Regions from separate parts of the Homo sapiens genome. Here region 2 is linked to region 1. The links come from fine-mapping of genetic effects on gene expression. A gene starts in region 1. The other region holds a variant in brackets. All regions are shown on one strand. Distances are from middle to middle. Region 1 holds the start of RPN2 (ribophorin II). Region 2 overlaps RPN2 (ribophorin II).

What was found.
Region 2: its variant is fine-mapped to the expression of RPN2 in whole blood (INTERVAL, PIP 0.90).

The regions. Positions count from the first base shown.
Region 1 is chr20:37,167,634-37,182,524 of GRCh38, forward strand. RPN2 (ribophorin II) reads left to right here and starts at 11,697. Exons shown (of 17, transcript NM_002951.5): 1 at 11,697-11,736. The coding sequence starts at 11,724. It overlaps MROH8 (maestro heat like repeat family member 8), which reads right to left and starts at 11,915. Exons shown (of 25, transcript NM_152503.8): 1 at 11,756-11,915; 2 at 11,590-11,754; 3 at 6,362-6,483; 4 at 4,279-4,424; 5 at 488-610. The coding sequence starts at 11,847. RefSeq lists enhancers at 11,255-11,814, 11,323-11,402, 11,753-11,802, 11,815-12,372 and a silencer at 11,923-11,972.
Region 2 is chr20:37,219,476-37,227,475 of GRCh38, forward strand. RPN2 (ribophorin II) reads left to right here. Exons shown (of 17, transcript NM_002951.5): 10 at 4,403-4,494; 11 at 6,213-6,327. Among named protein-coding and RNA genes, the nearest start is that of GHRH, 38 kb to the right of the region's middle. The variant C/T (reference allele first, on the strand shown) is at 3,250.

The DNA of each region.
Region 1 (14,891 bases):
TTCTCAAGTGGCTCGTGTGTATTAGGTACCATGGACATGGCTTATATTTATTTTGAATTTAATGGTCACAATAGCTCTGTGAAGTAGATATAGCTATTCTTGTTTTATAGGGGAGGAAACTGAGGCATTGAGAAGTGAAGTAATTTCCTACAGTTTCACAGCTATAAAAAGGCAGGGCTGTCCCCTGAACCTAGGCATACGATTATGGGGACTGTCTGGGAACTACTGCTTGAGTCATGAGAATGTAGCGTTGGCCTTGCTGAGAAATTCAAATGCTGTTCCTGTCCTTTCTACTCTTCTTTTAATTGGTTTTCAAGGGTGATTACATGTGTGGGGTGGCCATGAGTATTTCTCCTCCATGTGGAGATACTGATACTAGAAGAGTTCAAGTGAATTGATAACATAGGTGAAGCCACTAAAAAATGCTTTGGCCAAGTCACTGAATTTGTGTGATCCCAATCATTTGTGATAAGGTCATAATACTTACATTTAAGGTATGCACAATGTCTGCTATGTGGCTGTGAATGAATGATTTTGCGGTTTCATCATAAGGTAAAGCTTGGCTGAGAGAAGACAGATCTCCTAGGAATTTCAGCTTTTCAAGTTCACCCTGAATTTGTGGGAAAATGATAAAAATACAATTATATGTCATAATCTTATTTGAATAACTGTGGAGAGTTTTTGAAAAGTTTCTTGGAATGCTTTAAATATCTGACATCTCTTTCAACCCAATATCAGTCTTTTATTACAAAGAATGAGTAAATTACGGAAGATTTCAGTGAAATTCCTTGTCCGCTGGCCCTGCCTTGCTTTGAGACCTCGGCTCTCCTCTCAGCTCCATGTTCCATCCTGGCTTTCCCCACTCTTAGTCTTTGCTTTTCTACCTGCCTGTCCTGTGTAGTGTTGCCTGATTAAGCTTCCTAGGCTGGGCATGGTGGCTCATGCCTGTAATCCCAGCACTTTAGGAGGCCGAGGTGGACAGATCACCTGAGGTCAGGAGTTCCAGACCAGCATGGCCAACATGGTGAAACCCTGTCTCTACTAAAAATACAAAAAAGTAGCCAGGCGTGGTGGCGCGTGCCTGTGCCTGTAGTCCCAGCTACTTGGGAGGCTGAGGCACGAGAATCACTTGAACCTGGGAAGCGGAGGTTGCAGTGAGCTGAGATGGTGCCGCTGCACTCCAGCCTGGGTGACAGAGTGAGATCCCATCTCAAAAAAAAAAAAGCTTCCTAAAGGTGACCTCTCTGATTCTGTTACTTCTAGTTCTTTCAATGTCATTAAAAATTCATTATTTTGCTTTTAAAATTTCCTATTAAAATCCAAGTTCTGATTGGAAGAATAAAATCTCTCAGTACTAACATTCTCTTTTTCTTTTTTATTTTATTATTACTATTATTATTATTATTTTTTTGACATGGAGTCTCGCTCTGTCACCCAGGCTGGAGTGCAGTGGCACGATCTCAGCTCACTGCAACCTCAACCTCCTGGGCTCAAGCAATCCTCCCGCCTCAGCCTCCCAACTAGCTGGGACCACAGGCACGCACCACCACGTCCAGCTAATTATTTGTATTATGTTGCCCAGGCTGGTCTCAAACTCCTGAGCTCAAGTGATCCACCTGCCTTGGCTTCCCAAAGTGCTGGGATGACGGGATGACAGGTGAGAACCACCATGCCTGGCCTCTCTTTTTCTTTTTCTTTTTTTTTTTTTTTTTTTGAGATGGAGTCTCGCTCTGTCACCCAGGCTGGACTGCAGTGGTACACCTGGGTTCAAGTGATTCTCCTGCCACAGCCTCCCAAGTAGCTGGGACTACAGGCATGCACCACCACACCAAGCTAATTTTTGTATTTTTAGTAGAGATGGGGTTTTATCATCTTGGCCAGGCTGGTCTCGAACTCCTGACCTCAGATGATCTGCCTGCCTTGGCCTCCCAAAATGCTGGGATTACAGGCGTGAGCCACTGCACCCGGCCTCTTTTCTAATTATACATACATACATATATATATAAAATTCCTATTTATCATAGAACCTTTTTTTTTTTTTTAAGACAGGGTCTTGCTCTGTCATCCAGGCTGGAGTGCAGTGGCGTGATCACCACTCACTGCAGTCTACATCTCCTGGGCTCATGGGATCCTTGTACTTCAGCCTCCTGAGTAGTTGGGACTATAGGTGTGCTTGAACCTGGGAGACGGAGGTTGCAATGAGCCAAAATCGCGCCACTGAACTATAGCTTGGGTGACAGAGCAAGACTCTGTCTCAAAAAAGAAAAAAAAAATCTCTATATATCTTAAGACTTGGAGAATGCGTTTGCTCCTGAAGCAGGGTCCAGTGTCCTTTCTTTTTTTTCTTTTGAGACAGAGTCTCACCCTGTTGCCCAGGCTGGAGTGCAATGGCATGATCTTGGCTCACTGCAACCTCCGCCTCCCAGGTTCAAGCTATTCTCCTGTCTCAGCCTCCCAAGTAGCTGGGATTACAGGCACCTGCCACCATGCCCGGCTAATTTTTTGTATCTTTAGTAGAGATGGGGGTTTCACCATGTTAGCCAGGCTGGTGTTGAACTCCTGACCTCGTGATCTGCCCACCTTGGCCTACCAAAGTGCTGGGATTACAGGTGTGAGCCACTGCGCCTGGCTGGTCCAGTGTCCTTTCTAAGTGTATCTACAAACCACATGAATAAATTGCTATCACAGCACTTGCGATACTCTGACATAATGACCTTCTTATTAATCTATTTCCCTGACTGACTGTGGAATCAGCTCAAGGCAGGTAATGGGCTTTTTTGTTTCAATTCATGGCAGCAATCCAAGCCCTTCATTAACTACAAAGAAATCGAAAGAAAACCATGCTGATATGAAGTATAAGGATTAGCTGAAGTCAAAAGTGAAGGCCAACATGTTGGCTTTAAATGTTTTATTTTTATTTTTCATTGGTATTCTACATAAAGAAAATGTACAGTTTGGTGGATTTTCACAAACCAAAAAACACCCTGTAGCCAGCAACAGATTATTACTAGCATTCCTGAAGTTTCCCTCATCCTCCTTCCAGTGGAGGCTCTGTGTGGTTTTGTGTGTATGTGTATGTGTGTGTTTTGTGTGTGTTTTGGTAAATTGACAAATTATGGTTGTATATATTTATGCGGTACAAAGTGACAACATGATTTTTAAAAATGTATCATACAGTAAAACTGATTTCGGCAGGAAGCATGTGGTTCCATGTGTTATAACACACACATACACATGTGTAACCATCACCACAATCAGGATACGAACAGTTCCACCATCCCCTAAATTTCTCTCCTGCTATCCCTTTTTAGTCACATCCTCTCCCCACCCTAATGCCTAGGAATCACTAATCTGTTCTGCATCACCATGTTTTGTCTTTTCAAGAATGTCACACAACTGGAATCATACAGTCTGTAACCTTTTCTGATTGGTTTCTTTCACTCAACACAATGCCTCTGCGATTCATCTTTGCTGTTGTATCGATAGTTCCCTCCTTTAATTGCTGAATAGTATTATATTTTTTGAGACAGGGTCTCGGTCTGTTTGTGGCCCAGTTTGTTTATCTGTGAATAGTCTTTAATCTTACTACTCCAACTTCTTCCCTGCGTCTAGCATAGTGCCTTATAAATGGTAGCTGTTCATTCATTACTTGTTGATTGGGTGAATGGGATTTAAAAGCCATAGAGGACCAGGCACAGCGGCTCATGCCTGTAATCCCAGCACTTTGGGAGGCCAAGGCATGTGGATTGCTTGAGGTCAAGAGTTCAAGACCTGCTTGGTCAACATGGTGAAACCCATGTCTACTAAAAATACAAAAATTAGCTGGGCAATGGTGGCACGTGCCTGTAATCCCAGCTACTCAGGAGGCTGAGGCAGGAGAATCACTTGAACCCGGGAGGCAGAGGTTGCAGTGAGCTGAGATTGTGCCACTGCACTCCAGCCTGGGCGACAGAGTGAGACACTGTCTCAGAAAAAAAAAAAAAAAAAGTCTAAAAAAATATAAACCAAAATGTCAGCAGTAGTTATTTGAGACTGGAATTAGGGAAGATTAGCTTTTAATTTTTATTATGGTTTTCTTTGTTTTTACATTAATTTCATAATTATATATGTAAGTATAATTTATAAATATATGTAAATATATGTATTATAAATATAAAACAAACATGTTTTATAACCTATAATATAAAATTATTTGTATAATCAAGAAATAATATGTTTAAAATATTTGTTAAAATGGAGGAATAAGTTGGATAACTCATAAAAATTGCTTGTGCATACCTTTAGCTCACCATTGAAAACCTTCTGGATGGACTGGATCAGTTTCTCAACAATGGCCTCACTGAGCGGGTCCTGTTGGGTCAGGTGTCTGGGGCTATGTGACAGGGGCTCACAATGGAGTCCAGGGATGTCAGGGATGTCCAAGTCTAACATTGAAAGAAAGACACTGGATGATGCCTCCGTACTGTGTAAAGTGATAAGGTTTAGTATGGAGTACCTCTGGCTCACCTTTACTACTTGCTCTATGACCTTAACCAAGTCCCATCCTGTCTCCTAGACTCAGTTTTCTCAAAAATAAATTCAATGTTCTCTAAGGGCCTCCTAAGCTACAAAAAACCTTTGGGACTGAGCTGTAGCAGAATGGTTAAGACTATGGACTTTAAATCTCAATTTGAGACTAGTTTGAATCTTGGCTCTACCACTTACTATTTGTATGACCTTTATCAAGCTAGTTTGCCTCCTGAAACCTAAGTTTCCTTTTCTGTAAAACAGGGTTATTATAAGAATTAAATGAGGTAATACATGCAAAGAACTGATCCCAGAAGTATTTCCCCCTTAACACATCTTTCATCTGAAGATTTTTACCATTCTTTTTTTTTTTTTTTTGAGACAAGAGTCTCACTCTGTCGCTCAGGCTGGAGTACAGTGGCGCGATCTTGGCTCACTACAACCTCTGCCTCCTGGGTTCAAGCGATTCTTGTGCCTCAGATTCCCAAGTAGCTGGAATTACAGGCACACGCCACCACCCCCAGGTAATTTTCGTATTTTTAGTAGAGATGGGATTTCGCTATGTTGGCCAAGCAAGGTCTCGAACTCCTGACCTCAGGTGATCCACCCGCCTCAGCCTCCCAAAATGCTGGGATTACAGATGTGAGCCACCGTGCCCGGCCACCACTCTACTTTTGCATTCTTTTTGATTTCTTGAATGCCTCTTCAGTAAACTCTACCCACTTCCTGCCATATTCCTATCATCCACTAATTGCAATAATTGAAGCCATGTTCTCATTCTGATCTGTGCACAGGCTGTTCCTTCTGCCTGCATTTTTCTCCTTCTTCTCCCCCACCTTCCCTTACCTATCTTTGCCTTGCTAACTCCTACTCATCCTTCAAGTCTCAGCTCCAGGATGCCTTTCGTGTATGCCCTTTTTGCCTATTTTGGCTAAGTATCCCCAAGTCACTAATAAACCGCTCTGTATCCACTCTGGCTCTCCCACCCCCATCACACTGATTGCACTGAGTTCCATTTGCCTGTTCATCCGTAGGTATACTGTGTCTGTTCTGTTCGATGCTATATCTCCAGCTGCTAGATTAAGCTTAGAGCACAGGAGGGCTTCATTAAGTATTTGCTGAATGAATGTATGAATGAATGAAGGTAGCTTCAAACACACCAGGATCTTTCCTGTGTCATGCACATGCTGTCCCCATCTATCTGTAGTACTCCCTATACTCACATGAGTTACTCTCACATCTTTCAAGCCTCCTTTAGATTTAAATAGCACTCATGGTCTCATACAGGTGTTCTCTGACAACCAGAGTTTCAAGTAGGTTCCTATTGCCCTTATTTTTGTCTCAGCCTGTTCTTCCATACTGCTTACTACAAGTTGTAGTTACTTCAGTGACTGTTTACTCTTTTTGGTCTCTTTTCTGCACAATAATGTAAGTTCTATGAGGGCAGTGACCATGTTGGTCATGTCTACTGTTGTATTCCCAGCTCCTGGTACTCAATACATGTTTTGTAGAATGAAAGTTATTCTGAAGCCCAATCCAGATCTTACCTTCTGCATAAAGTCCTCCCACTCCAAGGTATCCCACACTGCCCTTTCCCTCCTCAGAATCCCTCAAGCACTCACACTCTTCTGCAGAACTGTCTCAGGACCAACCTTAGTTTCCTGGACATCACGAACCATGTATCTCATTTTGCCAACTGTATTTCAAGGTCTCAAAGTCAGGGACCAAATTCATCATCAAAGTCTAGTCAAGGGCTGGTCACCCAGCAAGTACTCAATCAATACCTCTTGGCCTGAGTTGAAAATACATTCTCTTTTCCCCTCCCCTCCCCTTTCTAGTCCTTTCTCCTTTTTACCTGTCAGTTCAATGCTACTTGAGCCTTTTTTAATAATCTCTAAGTTGCTCAGCTCCAAATCCACACTTTCTGAATCACTGTCATAGGCACAGGGGATCACTACTTCTTCCTGACTACAGATCCTAGGAATAAAGAGGAGATGCGAAAAATTAGTTTTCCAGGACTGCTTCTGTCTCATCATTTATTTGAAAGCCTCAATGTCACTTTCTGAGAGAGGCATTTATTCATCACCAATCTAGATTAAGTAGCTCCCACCATCCTGGCCCCACAGTTACCTTCTTATTTTTTTCATGGTATTTAACCACCACCTACAATTACCTTGCTCATTTGGTTTATTTGTTTGACTGTCTCCTATCAGACTATAAACTCCATTAGAGAGAACCCTCGTCTACATGGTCACATTTGTATCCCCAATACCTACCTAGCATGTTGTCAGTCTCATTAGGAGTGAATGGATAGGTAAGAAATACTATGCTGCTGTTAAAAACAATGCTGGGTGCAGGTGGCTCACGCCTGTAATCTCAGCACTTTGGGAGGCTGAGGCGGGCAGATCACCTGAGATCAGGAGTTCAAGACCAGCCTGGCCAACATGGCAAAACCTGGTCTCTACTAAAAATACAAAAAATAGCCGGGCATGGTGGCACATGCCTGTAATCCCAGCTACTCGGGACACTAAGGCAGGAGAATCACTTCAACTGGGAGGTGGAGGTTGTAGTGAGCCGAGATTGTGCCACTGCACTCCAGCCTGGGTGACATAGCAAGACTCCATCTCAAAAAACAAACAAACCCATCAAAAAAACCAGATTGAGGTAGAACACCTCACCAAACTCCCTCTATCTTCCTTACCCTTTCCTACTTTTTCTTTTTACCATAGCACGTAACACCTTCCAATATATCTTTCACTTGTTTATGATGTTCATTGTCATTTATTTCCTCCTGCTAAAATGTAAGCTTCATGAGGGCAAGAATCTTTGGCTGCTTTGTTCATGAATGTATCCCAGGAGTCTAGAACAGTGACATACAGAAGTGCTCAACAATTATTGGCAGAGTAAATGATTGAGCAGGTCTCTATTTACTGAATGTTTAGCATAGATTCATGAAAGAAAAAGCAAGCTGTCAAACAATGGATATGACATTTTTCATTAAAACAAAACTATTTTCACAAAAGTATAAGTATATGTGTATACACACAGAAACACACACACACAAATGTTGGCATACATGAAAAAAAACTTATGGAGGCTGGGTATGGTGGCTCACTCTGTAATCTCAGCATTTTGGGAGGTTGAAGTGGGAGGACTGCTTGAGCTCAGGACTTCGAGACTAGCCTGGGCAACACGGTGAGACCTCATCTCTACAAAAAAGTAAAAAATTGGCCAGGAGCGGTGGCTCATACCTGTAATCCCAGCACTTTGGGAGGCTGAGGAGGGCGGATCATGAGTTCAGGAGATTGAGACCATCCTGGCTAACAGGGTGAAACCCCATCTCTACTAAAAAAAAAAAAAACAAAAAAATTAGCCGGGCACGGTGGCGGGCGCCTGTAGTCCCAGCTACTCGGGAGGCTGAGGCAGGAGAATGGCGTGAACCCGGGAGGTGGAGCTTGCAGTAAGCCGAGGTTGCACCACTGTACTCCAGCCCAGGCGACAGAGCGAGACTCCATCTCAAAAAAAAGAAAAAAAAAGTAAAAAATTAGCTAGGTGTGGTGGCATGTGCCTGTAGTCCTAGCTACTCAGGAGGCTGAGGCAAGATGATCCCTTAAGCCCAGGAGTTTAAGACTGCAGAGTTTAAGCTATGATGGCACCACTGCACTCCAGCTTGACTGACAGAGAGAACTTGTCTCTAGAAGAAACAAAAACACAACTTACGGAATTCATTTTTTAAAATTATTTATTATTTTTAATTTTTATTTTTTTTGACACAGAGTCTCACTTTGTCGCTCAGGCTGAAGTGCAGTGGTGCAATCTCAGCTCACTGCAACCTCTCTGCCTCCTGGGTTCACGTGATTCTCATGCCTCAGCCTTCTGAGTAGCTGGGATTACAGGTGCCTGCCACCACGCCCGGCTAATTTTTATATTTTTAGTAGAGACAGGGTTTCGTCATGTTGGCCAGGCTGGTCTCAAACTCCTGACCTCAGGTGATCTGCCCACTTTGGCCTCCCGAAGTGTGGGGATCACAGGCATGAGCCACGGCGCCCAGCCAATAAAACAATTTTGGAAGGACACCCCAAACCAATAAAGTTTGAACTCTGTCCTGTATGCATATATTTCTTTAATAAAAAATGAGTTCATTAAAAACAAAGAAACCCTCTAGGAGCAGAATGGTTGGGTTGTGTGGTAGATTGTGTAACTGACTTCTTAAGATGCTGCCTGGCCACGTGTTGTGTCTCACGCCTGTATTCCCATTGCCTTTGGGAGGCTAAGGCGAAAGGATTGCCTGATACCAAGAGTTTGAGACAAGCCTGGGTAACATAGCAAAATCCGATCTCTACAAAAAATTAGCTGGGGGTGGTGGCATGTGCCTGTAGTCCCAGTTACTCAGGAAGCCAAGGCAAGAGGGTCCTAGAGTCCAGGAGGTGAAGGCGGCAGTGAGCTATGATTCCATCACTGTATTCCAGCCTGAGCGACAGATGGAGACCTTGCCTCGTAAAAAACAACCACCGCCAGTGGCTCACGCCTGTAATCCCAGCACTTTGGGAGGCTGAGGTGAGTGGATCACTTGAGGTCAGGAGTTTGAGACCAGCCTGGCCAACATGGTGAAACCCCGTCTCTACTAAAAATACAAAAAAATTCAGCCAGGCAGTGTGGCGCGCGCCTGTAATCCCAGCTACTCGGGAGGCTGAGACACGAGAATCGCTTGAACCCAGGAGATGGAAGTTGCAGTGAACTGAGATTGTGCCATTGCACTCCAGCCTGGGTGACAGAGGGAGACTTTGTCTCAAAACAAACAAACAAACAACGAAGAAGCTGTCAATCTGTTTCCAAAATGGTCGTACCACTTTACATTTCCATCAGCAGGATATGAGAGATCCTGTTGCTCCACATCCTTGCCAACATTTGCTATTGTTGGTCTTTTTCTTTTTCATTAGTCAGGTGTGGTGGCTCCCATCTGTGGTCCACAGCTAGTCACTAGGACCACAGATGCGAGCCACCACACCTGGCTAATCAAAATTTTTTTTTTGTAGAGGCAGGTCTTGCTGTGTTGCCCAGGTGGGTCTCGAATTCCTGGACTCAAGTGATCCTCCTACCTCAGCCTCCCAAAAGCTCTGGGATTACAGACTGAGCCACCATTCCTGGCTGCATATGCTAAGTCTGTGGTGTAAATACTCCCATCATGGCCAAAATCAAGCTACCAATACTACCTTGGGAAGAGATGTTCAATGGCATACTGTCATATATTTCCACCACACAGTTACAACAGATATAAGCAACCACAAAAGCACACAAAACGTAAAATGTAGTGAAATAATTAGAAAATAATGAGTTTTGTTTTCAATATACTTTATTTCATCCTAAATTGATATAATTTTCTAAATGGCTGTATTTAACCAATTTGCAAAATTACTGCAAATTTAACAATGGACTCTCAAGATAGTATGAGACAGCTCCAGCACACCACTGGTTGGTTGTCTTATTCTTGAGCTGGGAGAATTCTTTATATATTCTACATCAGCACTGCCCAATGGAACTTTCTGCAATAATGAAGATGTCCTATAATTTTGAGTGGTCCAATCTGATATCCACTAGTTATCTGTGGCTACTGAGCACTTGAAATGTGGCTAGTACAAATGAGAGACTGAATTTTAAATTTTACTTAATTTTAATCCATTTAAATTCAAATTTAAATATCCACATAAGGCTAGTGGCTATCATAACAGACACAGAAAGAACTGACTCTCTCCCATGCGGGATAACATTTGGGACAATAATAACGTTAATAAGAGTTATATTGTGCATACTTTATATGTTCATAAAACTGTAGTTAAAAGCACAGATTCTGGAGTCAGCTGCCTAGGTTCAAATCTGTTTCCTTCTCTTTAAAATGGGATTAGCCTGTAATCTCAGCACTTTGGGAGGCTAAGGCCGAAGGATCCTTTGAGCCCGAGTTCCAGACCAGCCTGGGCAACAAAGCGAGACGCGGTATCTACCAAAAATAATTTTAAAGATTAGCTGGGCGTGGTGTCGCAAGGCAGCAGTCCCAGCTACTCCGGAGGCTGAGGCGGGAGGGAAGATTGCTTGAGCCCAGGATGTCGAGGCTGCAGTAAGCTGTGATCGCACCACTGCACTCCAGCCTGGGCGACAGAGCAAGATCCCGTATCAATAAAAAAGGAAAGAAAAGAAATAATGCTTGTAGAGCGTTCGGCACAGTGTCGGGTTATACTGTAAACATTCAGTAGTTGGCGCTAGTTATTAGAGCGGTGTTCCTGGATGAGCCACCTCCATGTTGAGCCTGTAAAACTGGCCTAATATGTTCTCTATGAGTCACTGCATTGCTCTGCAAATCAGATAAAACGTCACTCGTAGGTCAGTTATTAACAACCCCACTGATAATCTTTGGAAAAAACTGACATAATTTTCTTTTTCTTTTTTTTTTGGTGAGACGGAGATTTACTCGTTGCCCAGGCTGGAGTGCAATGGCGCGATCTTGGCTCACCGCATCCTCCGCCTCCCAGGTCCAAGCGATTCTCCTGCCTCAGGCTCCCGAGTAGCTGGGATTACAGGCATGTGTGACCACGCCCGGCTAATTTTGTATTTTTAGTAGAGACGGGGTTTCACCGTGTTGCCCAGGCTGATCTCGAACTCCTCACCTCAGGTAATCCGCCCGCCTCGGCCTCCCAAAGTTCTGGGATTACAGGCGTGAGCCACTGCGCCCGGCCAGAAACTGCCACAATTTTCTAAAGAGGAAAAAAAAATCCCTTCTAAGCTATCCCCTCCCGACGAGACCCTTCCTGTTCCTTTAAAATGGGCCGGGCAGCAGAAAGACGAGTGAGTGACAGCAGACAGGCCAATCAGAAGCGGCCCCGTCTCGGGCCCACCCCGAGGCCTGGCCCAACCGCGTCCCGGTAGCTCCCGGAATAGGAGCGTTGCGAGACGGTCGGTTCCAAGTGGGCCTGGGCGCGGGGGAGAGGCGGGTCTGTCCTCGGGAACTGCAAGGCCCTGTGAGCGGGAGGACTGGGATCCCGGCCGCGGCTGCTGGAAGCGTCGAAGCTCAGCGGGGCCGCGGACACTGACCTGTGCTTAGAACTCATCCTGGCCCGCAGAGCCTGCCGCGAGTCCCTGGCGTCCCCTGTGGCGGGCTCTTGGAGCCACTTTCCCGAGCGGAAGTCAGCCCGCGGCTCGGACTCCGGCGGGACCTGCTCGGAGGAATGGCGCCGCCGGGTGAGGAGTTGCGCGTGGCTTTGGGGAGAGGGCTGTCGCCCGCGGGAGGTTACTAGTCGCCGCTCGAGAGCCGGCCAGGCGGGATCCCCTTCCCCTGCGGGACAGGGGCATGGGCACAAGCTCTGGCTGGGGCGCTCTCGGATCGAGGGTCCGAAGGAGGGCTGCGAGCTGGTGGGAGTGCCCGCGACCTGGCGGGGTTGGTGCCTGGGGGAGGGGTGCAGCGCGGAGCTACGGGTCGCCCCGAGGCTCAGCCGTGGGGACCGCGGACGCGCTTAGCCTAGGTCTGGCCTCATTCATTTCACTCGCGCGGGCTTCTGGGCCAGGCGGCCTAAGGTTCTGGTCCCGGCGCTGCCCCTTACTCCGTGTGAGGTTTTGGGCAGATTGTCCTTCTTTGTGCTGTAGTTTCCCATTCAGTGAAAGGGGCAAAGAAAACCCTCACTTCTCTCTGGGAGCCTGGAGCATAAGTTCTCAAGTGACACTCTAGGTGCAAACTTGCAGTCGGCCACGTATTCATTGTGTAACCCAAAGCAGGTTACTTAACCCCTCTACACCTCAGTTTCTCATCTGTAAAATAAGTTAGTCAAATTAGTCACGTTATCTGCCTCGTTGAGTTGCTTTATTAAGTGAAATAATCTTCGTGCTTAGTTTAGAACAGTGCATGGCCCTAGGTAAGAACTAAGTTAACTGCATTGGAAGTTACTGAGTAGACGCTGTGCAGGGTGGAATTTCATGTAGCCTCATCGTAACTTTGGAAGCATGTACTCTTGTTACTACCATTTGACAGATGAGAAGTTGGAATCCCACGGAAGGGAACTTACTTGCCCAGGGTGACACATGAATGAGTCAGTGGCTCACCGTTTCATTATTTGAGAAGTTCAGGATAGTAAAGTGGTTAAAAGCAGACTTTGGATTCAAATTGCCTGAAGTTTGATTTTCAGTGATGTGTCCTAGGGCAGGTAACTACTTCTGAGCCTTACTTTCCTGGTCTGTGAAATGCAGAAAATAGCCACCTTGCTTAGATGTTGTGAGGATTTAATGATTTGGTGTGTGCAAAGCACAGCATAGCGTGGGCATACCTAACATATTAAGTGCTCAACTTTTAGTCAGAAAAGTTACTGCTCTCGTTAACATGGAGTGAGAAGATTAGGATTCTGACACAGGTGCTGTTTTAGGGGAATTTACGGTCTAGGTGGGAAAATGCTAGTCGCAGCCATTCACTAGATCTTCATATATTGGGTACCCGCCTGTGCACAAGGCATTGGGGATTCAGCATTAGTATCTTGACTCCGCTCTCTCTTAGGTCTTTCTGTCCATTAGCAGTTTCTGATAGGCTTTGACTTTGAATTCTAGCCAGACTAACTCTCATCACTTCTCATCATGTTCACTGCTGTTGCCCTGGTTTGGGCCACCATCATCTTCTGGCTTGGATTATGGCGGTAGTCTCCCAACTGGTGTCCCCTGCTCTGTCCTTGCACCTGCATGGTCTGTTCTCCACACAGTATTGTTTATTCTCAACACAGTAATACCATTAGAGTGTAAGTCAAATCACTCCTCTGCTTAGAACTTTCCAGTGGTCTCCAGCCGGGTGCGGTAGCTCACGCCTGTAATCCCAGCACTTTGGGAGGCTGAGGCGGGCGGATCACGAGGTCAAGAGATCAAGACCATCCTGGCCAACATGGTGAAACCCCGTCTCTACTAAAAAGACAAAAATTAGCTGGGCATGGTGGCACGTGCCTGTAGTCCTAGCTACTTGGGAGGCTGAGGCAGGAGAATCGCTTGAACCCGGGAGGCGGAGGCTGCAGTGAGCCGAGATCGCGCCACTGCACTCCAGCCTGGCAACAGAGCGAGACTCTGTCTAAAAAAAAAAAAAAGAACTTTCCAGTGGCTTCCACTACGGTGGTATACAAGGCCCTCTGGATTTGTCCTCTGCTACCTCTGTTACCTCATCTACTTCTTACCCTTTGCTTATTCCACTCAAGCTGTACTGTCCTTGCTGATCTCAAAAAACACTGTATGTGTACATACTCCTGATTCAGAATGTTTGCATTTGGTTTTTCTTTTCTTTTTTTTTTTTTTTTTTGAGACAGAGCCCCAGGCTGGAGTGCAGTGGCACGATCTCAGCTCACTGCCCACTCTGCTTCCCAGATCAAGTGATTCTCGTGCTTCAGCCTCCCTAGTAGCTGGGATTACAGGCCAAGTCACCATGTGCGGCTCATGTTTTGTATTTTTAGTAGACATGGGGTTTCACCATGTTGGCCAGGTTTGTCTTGAACTCCCGACCTCAGGTGATCCCCCTGCCTTGGCCTCCCAAAGTGCTGGGGTTAGAGGTGTGAGCCACTGCGCCTGGCCATATTGGGTTTTTCTTCTTAGCATAGTTTCCCACCAGATATCTTTATGACTTGCTTCTTCTTCAGATCTGTACTCAATATGTTTATTTCTTAGTCCTTCATAGACTACCGTATTTAAAATGCAGCCCTTCCCAAATATCTCTTCTGTACTTTATTTTTTTCCATAGCACTTACTTTGTAATGTGATAAATAATGTTATTTCATGTGATGTCTTTTGTCACTAGAATAGAAGCTCTTTGAGGGTGGGAGTTTTGTTTCTTTTGTTTCCTGCTGTATTTTTAACACCTAAAGTAGTGTGTGGCACATAGTAGCTCAGTATACATTTGATGAATACACCACGTGATAGATTTTTTCTTTTTTTAATTTAATTTTATTTATTTATTTTTATTTTTTTGAGATGGAGTCTCACTCTGTCACCCAGGCTGGAGTGCAGTGGTGCGATCTCGGCTCACTGCAACTTCCGCCTCCTGGGTTTAAGTGATTCTCCTGCCTCAGCCTCCCAAGTAGTTTGGATTACAGGCACCCACCATCACACCTGGCTAATTTTTGTCTTTTTAGTAGAGACAGGGTTTCACCATGTTGGCCAGGCTGGTCTTGAACTCCTGACTTCAAGTGATCCGCCCACCTCGGCCTCCCAAAGTGCTGGGATTACAGGCGTGAGCTACTGTGCCCAGCTGTCTTTTATTTTTTTGAGACAGGGTCTCTCTTTCTCACCCAGGGTGGAGTGCCATGGTGTGATCTCAGCTCACTGCAGTCTCAACCTCCTGGGCTCAAGTGATCCTCCTACCTCCGCCTCCCGAGTAGCTG
Region 2 (8,000 bases), 48 kb after region 1:
AATACATGATTTGCAAATATTTTCTCACAGTCTGAAGGTTGTATTTTCACTTTCATGATGTTGTCTTTTGAGGCACAAAAAATCTTAATTTTGATGAAGTCCAGTTTTAAAATGTTTTGTTGTTGTTGTTTGTGCTTTAGGTGTCATGTCTAAGATGCCATTATGTAATCCAAGGTTAAGAAGATTTACTACTATGTTTTCTTAAAAGAATTTTATACTTTTGGCTCCTACCCTTAGGTTTCTGATTCATTGTGAGTTAATTTTTGTGTATGGTGTGATGTAGGGGGTCCAGTCTTCTTTTGCAGTTGTCCTAGACCCATTTGTTGAAAAGGCTGTTCTTTCCCTAACGAATTGCCTTGGCACATACATCCTTGTAGGAATCACTTGACAATAAATGTAAGGGTTGATTTCTGGACTCATAATTCTATTTCATTAATCTGTATTGTCCTTATGCCAGTGCCACGCTGTCTTGATTACTGTAACAGCTTGGCATTTTGTAACATCAAATCTGGTGTTTGTCCAAGTGTTTCTGTGATTGTTGGAAAAATTATCTAAGTACAAAATAGCAGAAATGGCTAATAGCTCTTGTTCATGCAATGATAATAAGCCCCCATTGAGGCCATTTACTCTCCTTTTCCTCCCTAGTGATGGAGTAAGCATTACAAAATCTTCTCTCTTCCTCCTTATTACATTAGAGGTGTGTGTGTTTGTGTGTGTGTGTGTGTGTGTGAGTGTGAGAGAGAGAGAGAGTCGGCTTTGACCTTTGCCGTATATGCAACTTTTCTTTGTAATTTCAGTAATAATCACACTTAGAGCCTCAGAGCAGGTCATTGGGTCCTGTTTGTCCTCCCAAGAAATGCTCGACATTGGTCAGAGTGCATTAACGGTGGTTTGGTGTGGAAGTCCTGTAATAGCCCTCATTGACATTGGACTGGCTGTCAGGGGAAGCATCGGTTTTGGACGCTCTCATTAGCATTAATTGCCCCTAATGCACCATCATTTTTGACAGTAATAAGCTAAACAGGGGTGTTATTACTCCCAGCAGAAAGACTGCATTTCCTGGCGTTAAAACATTTTTTGAGATGTATATGGCATGTGGTGCAGGCAAAGAAAGGAATAGCATGATCCAGTGTAAAGCAGGCTTAGCTGCATTTAAAGTGGAGAAATAAGTCCCTTTCCTATTATAAAAACGAATCCTGCATTGTTAGTTGGAAGGAAGAAGCAGCTAATCAACAGGGATCCTACACTGAACTCTTTAAAAGAGGGCTTTGGAAAAAGTTACGATTTTTATTTCTAAATTTGCTTTAAAAGAGTAGCATAAAAATGCTTTGCTTTTGAGTGTTTCCAGAGACCCATTTATAGTGAGATTTTAGGAGCAGAAGGATTTGTTTTAAACTGTTCCCTATTTAGGAACAGCCCTACGGGTGTTTATGTGCAACAATGAAAGCTGTAACTTAGGAAACCTTTTAAAATTGGGGCTGAGAGCAAACCAAGAATGATGCAAGTTCACTGCAGTTTGCCCTTTGCTCACTCCATGTATCTGCATTGTCTGGGGATGCTCAGGATGTCTTTAGAACACACACGAAGCTGGATCCTGATTAGCTGGCCTTGGTGGCCAGTTAGTGCTGAGAGTTTACAGCCAGGATTCTAAGTGAAAACCTAAAAGCTGATAGCTTCCTTATCACTATCATTAGGAGACACTGAAGACTTTACACAATTCTTTTTTTTTTTTTTTTTTGAGGCGGAGCCTTGCCCTATTGCCCAGGCTGGAGTGCAGTGGCATGATCTTGGCTCACTGCAACCTCTGCCTCCTGGGTTCAAGCCATTTTCCTGTCTCAGCCTCCTGAGTAGCTGGGACTACAGGCGTGCATCACCATGTCTGGCTAATTTTTTTGTATTTTTAGTAGAGACAGGGTTTTGCCATGTTGGTCATGCTGGTCTCAAACTCCTGACCTCAAATGGTCCTCCTGCCTCGGCCTCCCAAAGTGTTGGGATTACAGGCGTGAGCCACCACGCCCGGCCTAGTCTGTTCTTTTTAATTGCTCCATAGTAATTAATAATATGCATGTATCTTTCTTTATTTAGCTAGTCTTCTGTTTATGGACATTTCAGTAGGATGATGATTTCAAGATCACATTTACAGATTAAATGAATGAGTTCTTAAGAGAATGAGTTAGAGAAATAGGGAATTACCTAGTTAATCTTGATGAAGATTGCAGAGTAGTTAACTCTGAAGACAGATTATTTTTATAGCATGGAGTATTATTGCTAATCCTCCTACCTCTCCCAAAATTGGAGGGCTGCTAAGCCCATCAAGCCTCCTCCTCAGTCTTCTTGCTATGGAATGTTTCCTACTCCCCATTTGGGGCCACCCATGGGCAGACTTGGGTCACAGTTCCTTCTGTGCTTTCATAACACTTTGTACATCCATTAAAGCAGCAACCTGGTTTATTATAATTATGGTTTGTGTACGGGACAGGAAGGATTTCTTGCCATCTCTGTATATTCCCTGAATGGGGAAAGTGCTCTCAGCAGGTGTCAAATCAAAGCTCTGTGGCTACTTCTTTGCCTGAGCCTTCCATTCCAGTTTGTTTTCCAGTGGAAATGATGTCAGTACTTGTCGGGTTGTGTTTTTTGCAAGAAAGCTTGCTCTGGTTCTGAGCCTTGCGTGAGTTGTAACGCTGTTAACTCAGCAGAGAGCCCAAAGAGCCAAAGTGAGGCTCCTAGCTCCCTTCTTGGGGGTGTCTATTCAACCTGATGGGCCATCGTCCCTCCTCCTCCACTGCCATAATTTCACCCAGTTGCCTAGACTCAATGACAGGCAATGATCCTAAATATAGTTCTGCTATGAATTCATAGGTGGCTGTGAATTCAAAAGTAGATGGTAATATCCTTACAGCTTCTGGTAATAAACCTTTACAGTTTTTTTTTTTAAAGCAAAACAACACCCCTATTCAACATGATAATTGAGGCTGTTGTCATAAAATAGTTATTACAGAGGCAGGAAAGAAGGCCGTTAGAAGGAATTACTTGATAGGTATCTTTATTTTTAATTTTTCTTCTTTGCCCTTGATTTGAGGTTGTCACACCTCGATATGGTATTTCAGAAAACTGCCAGAGCTATCCTTCAATTATTTGCCCAGCCCGTTATCTCTATTCCTTGATCCTGACTTAGACTATAAACCAGTGGATTTGGCAAGGATTTCCTTAAGTGTTACATTCAAACCTATCAAATATTTGGAAGGCTTA[C/T]AGATCTGTTTGCACATAAAAGCGCCTTGGGTTTGCATAATTTGCACATTCAAACTTGGGTTTTAATTCAGAAATTTAACATGTTTTCTGTCTCTTTTGGATATTTACATTGATTTTAATCTAATTTTAAAATTTCTCATTTATTGGCATTAGCCCCTCTTTGTGAAGATGTTTAAGGGACATACAGAATTCAAACACTTTAAGAGTCAACATGGATTGGTTTGTGCTTATAACAAACTCCCAATCTCAGTGGCTTAAAACAATGAGGGTTTATTTTTTCCCCACGCTAGATTCTTTAGGTGGTCAACTGGAGGCTCTGCTTCATGATATCTTTGCTCCAGGACCCTGGCTGAAGGAGCAAGCATCTGGACATTGTGTCCATGTCAGAGGAAAAGAGAGAATCACACATTGATTCTTAAAGCTTTCACTTCTGCCCACATTTCATTGGCCAGAGCAAATCATGTGGCCACACTTGACTCCATGGGGGCAGGGAAGTAGAATTCTACCACATGCTCAGAAGGAGAATGAGAAGTACTTGGGCAACAGTACAGATAACTACCATGACTGTCTAACAAGGAGCTGAAGTGCATGGATTCTGAGTCAGAGTGCCTGAGCTTGACACTGGCCTGATCACTTCCTCACAGTCTGATTTTGAGCAAAGCAGCTTCATCTCTCTCATCTTTTATTTCCTTATCTGAAAAGCAGTACCTTACAGAATTGTGAGGATTAAATGAGATAGTCTTTACAAAGCCAGTGCCTTTCACATGGTAAGCACTCAATAAATCCTAGCTATCATTAGAACCCAATTCTTGCTGATTTGAATGAAAGGTACTGCTTAAGGATTTTTCCCCTTATTTATTTTAAAGGACACATGAAAAGATTTACTTTTTTTCTTTTCCTTTTTCTTCTTCTTTTTTTTTTTTTGATGTTTACCATCCATCCAAAGCCAGAAAAAGACATTTTAGGCCTCGGAATGGGAGAGGTTGGAAATATTACTGGGCTGGGTCAGTGTTATTATCATCCTTGAAGACTCTTGTTCTAGGATTTTTTCATGCCTTTACTCACCTTAAAGAATAGAAAACTTTATATCTGCATGTGAATTCCTGAACACCCACCAATTGACCTGGCAACTGTCTTCTCTATTTTCCTCTAGCTCAGAGTCAAGATCTCCACTGAAGTTGGCATCACAAATGTTGATCTTTCCACCGTGGATAAGGATCAGAGCATTGCACCCAAAACTACCCGGTAGGTGAGATGCCACCTGATCACTCAGGGAGCTGAGGCTCAAGAGCTGAGAGGAGTATGCCTAGGCACTGAGCCCTGCAGGCATCAGTTCTGTGTCAGCAGCCATCCAGCTTACATCCTAAATTAAAGAGTCTGTAGTTCCACTGGTCCTGCACCGGGGATTCTGCGAATTATCTAAGTGGATTTGGAGATTGTATATACCAGTGTTTAGTCCATGCACAAACTATTTATTAACCAGTCCTCAACGAGGTAAAGCGCTTACCTCAGGATGTTAGTCTGAGTCAGTCAGCTATGTCACTAAGCATATTATTTAGTTCAGATGATAATTTTTAAAATAATAAGACCTTCTCAATGAAGGAAGCAAGGTATTAATTTACATTCTGGTGCGATCTCCTTATCATCACAGTCCTGAATTTGCTTTTAGTGACCTAATGGCAAGTCTCTCTGGCCTATGATGGGTCTGAAATTAGTTGGAAGCCTCACACGTGCTTAAAATTGAGATGGCAGATACCCAGCACTAGGGCTGCCATTTCCCCCTCCCAAGTCCATGGAGGCAGTACTAAGAAGTCATAGAACATTTGCTCCCACTGAACTCAGACACAGCCTCAGAATCTTTTTTTGAAACATAATCTTCTAAGTAGACACTAACAATTGAACAGAGTTGGGCCAGAATGCTGTAAGAAGCCTGCTCATCAGCCCTCCCCCAGATCCTTATTGGCTCAGCGGGGATCTAGATTTCTGGGGTATAGTCCAGACCCCAACTTTACTCAACTAGGGTAGCTATAGAGGCCAGAAGACAGTAGGGTGAACCATCAAGGCTCTTTGAAGATGGGATGTTAGCCAGAGGCTGGAAGCCAAGCAGCTACTCCTTTTAAATCACATAGAGTTGGCCTTTGTGTCTCTGGGTTGGCTATTTTTGTAGTGATATTGGAGATAAGAGCACTGTTTAAGAATCCACTGAAGAAATGTCTGTGCGAGCGCTTTGCTGTTTAATTCTCTGCCTAGATGAAGAGTTGGTCTTACTTACGAGTAAATGTAAAATGTGAGTATAAAATAAAGCCAGGTCTGAGCTCTGTAACCATTTGGCTGGTTTATCCCCTGGCCATCTTACCCTAAAATCCCAGGAGATAGCTGTGAAAAGAAGTTTTCCTCATCAAGTCTGCCTTTTGGGAAAATGACTTTTTAAAACCCAGTTTCAGGGCAGAAAACTAAATTGAAACAGTGTCCAGGAAAAAAATATAGCATTAAAAAAAGACAAAGCTGAAAGTACCCTTCTTTCTTTTGTGTCTCCTACCTGCCTTGTCTCGATTTTGCTCACGTGTGCTGCTGGCATCAATCCTGTAATTATTTCTCCTTGCGGTTCTGCCAGCCCGGCTCTCCTGTGTGCCTGCAGAGGCCACACGTGAGCTCCTCTGGTGCCTGACTTTGTTGGAGTTGAGAGCCTTAGGTCCTTGAAGTGAAAGCCCAGAGGTACAAGCATCTGTACACAGCATTTCCCCAGATCCTGCTGGAAGTTTATTCTGCACTTTTCTCAGTCCAGGCTTTATCAGTCCAATTTGCCCCCAGGTTGCAGACAGTTCTCCACATCTGTCTGTCCACAACAGAAGTGTTACTATGGGAGAGGGTGGTTGAGGCAATGAAGTGAAGTATATATTTTCTGCCTGTTCTCAGAGATATACTGATCCTCTCTGAAGACTAACTCTATATGCCTCTTTCAGGGTGACATACCCAGCCAAAGCCAAGGGCACATTCATCGCAGACAGCCACCAGAACTTCGCCTTGTTCTTCCAGCTGGTAGATGTGAACACTGGTGCTGAACTCACTCCTCACCAGGTCAGGAAGACACCTAGACAGTTCTCTTAACCTGAAATGTGAATGGATACTAGAGTTTACAATGTGGTCTATAACATGGACTAGAGAGAATTCCACGTTCCTGCTTTCAGGTTTTGACCGAACCCTGACAGTCCATCAGGTTCTCCCACATGACACTCTCACCCTTCTACTGGTTGTAGTCCTTTACCTGGGATACACCCTTCTTTCTAAAAAGTTAGCTGGTATTGAGGAGAGGTACTTAAGGCAGATTTGCACTTAATTAAGGTCATTCCTTCCTCCCTCCCTCCCTCAGATGGACTCTTGCTCTGTCACCCAGGATGGAGTGCAGTGGTGTGATCTCAGCTCACTGCAACCTCTGCCTCCTAGGTTCAAGCGATTCTCCTACCTCAGCCTCCCAAGTAGCTGGGATACAGGCATGCATTACCATGCCCAGCTAATTTTTGTATTTTTAGCAGAGACAGGGTTTCACCATGTTGGCCAGGCTGTTCTCATCTCCTGACCTCAGGTGATCCGCCTGCCTCAGCCTCCCAAAGTGGTGGGATTATAAGCATGGCACTAGACTCGAGGCTTTTTCTTTCTGATTTAAAAAAGGGAATGTGCTGGCCAGGCATGGTGGCTCACGCCTGTAATCCCAACACTTTGGAGGCAGAGGTAGGAGGATCACTTGAGCCCAGGAGTTGGAGACCAGCTTGGGCAATATGGTGAGACCTCATTTGTGTGTATGTATGTATGTATAAATAAATAAGGGAATATACTGAAATAATTTCAAAAGAAGACCCAAAGCATTTTTTTATTCTAGCCAAAGCAGATTTTGTATTTGTGGGACTCTGAAGAATAGCCCTTTTAACTTGTGCTTACTTTGTATTATGAAAGCAATAGGCTTTATTTTTTTCATAGAGTAATGAAAATTATTATTTAAAAGATTTTCAAACCATATACTCTTTCCCCTGAGAACCTAATATGGCCCCATGTCCACTCAGATACCCCCACTCCCACACTGCCTGTCATCCCCCTTGATGGAGAATAACCTGCCTTTAGTGTTACGTGAAGGAAGATTCAGATAAATACTTTGAATGCTGAAAGACAGGAATGCGGGACCTAGTTTGGTATGGGGTACCCTGTACCGATGCTTTAGCAAGGACCAGCAGACTTGTTGCCTTGAGGCAGCTTCAGGGCAGACCTCAGAGGCAACTGGATTTACTTGAGAACCTTCTTGCTTTCTGTTTCTTGCAGCTGCAGCTGTTGGACTTGTGCCCCAGGAGCACGTTCCTCTATGGCCACAGTCCTGGGAGTCCTCTGCTCCTCTCTCCTCCCTACTCCCAAACTCCAGACAGCTTGGTTAGGGCCCTTAGCCAAGCCTAACTGACCTTTGAGTACTTCAGCCTCTTAGCATTTCCCAGCTTCTTCCCAGAATGACATTTGCCAACCAAATAGCACAAGGGAAGGAAGAGTACAAAGAGAAGAAAGTAAAAGACTAAACTAGTAGGATTAGGATTAGAGCAAGGAGAGTTAGTGAGGAAGTGTAACTTTCACTGAATACTTGTCTCATCCAGAATTCTGCTGTAGAATCATGGCCTAGAGACCTTCCAGGTGGAGGTGGCATTTTGGTGATGAACTTGGCAGCTGCCTGCACTTGATTGTGATAGGAAGGAGATCTGGCATCCGGTCTCCCC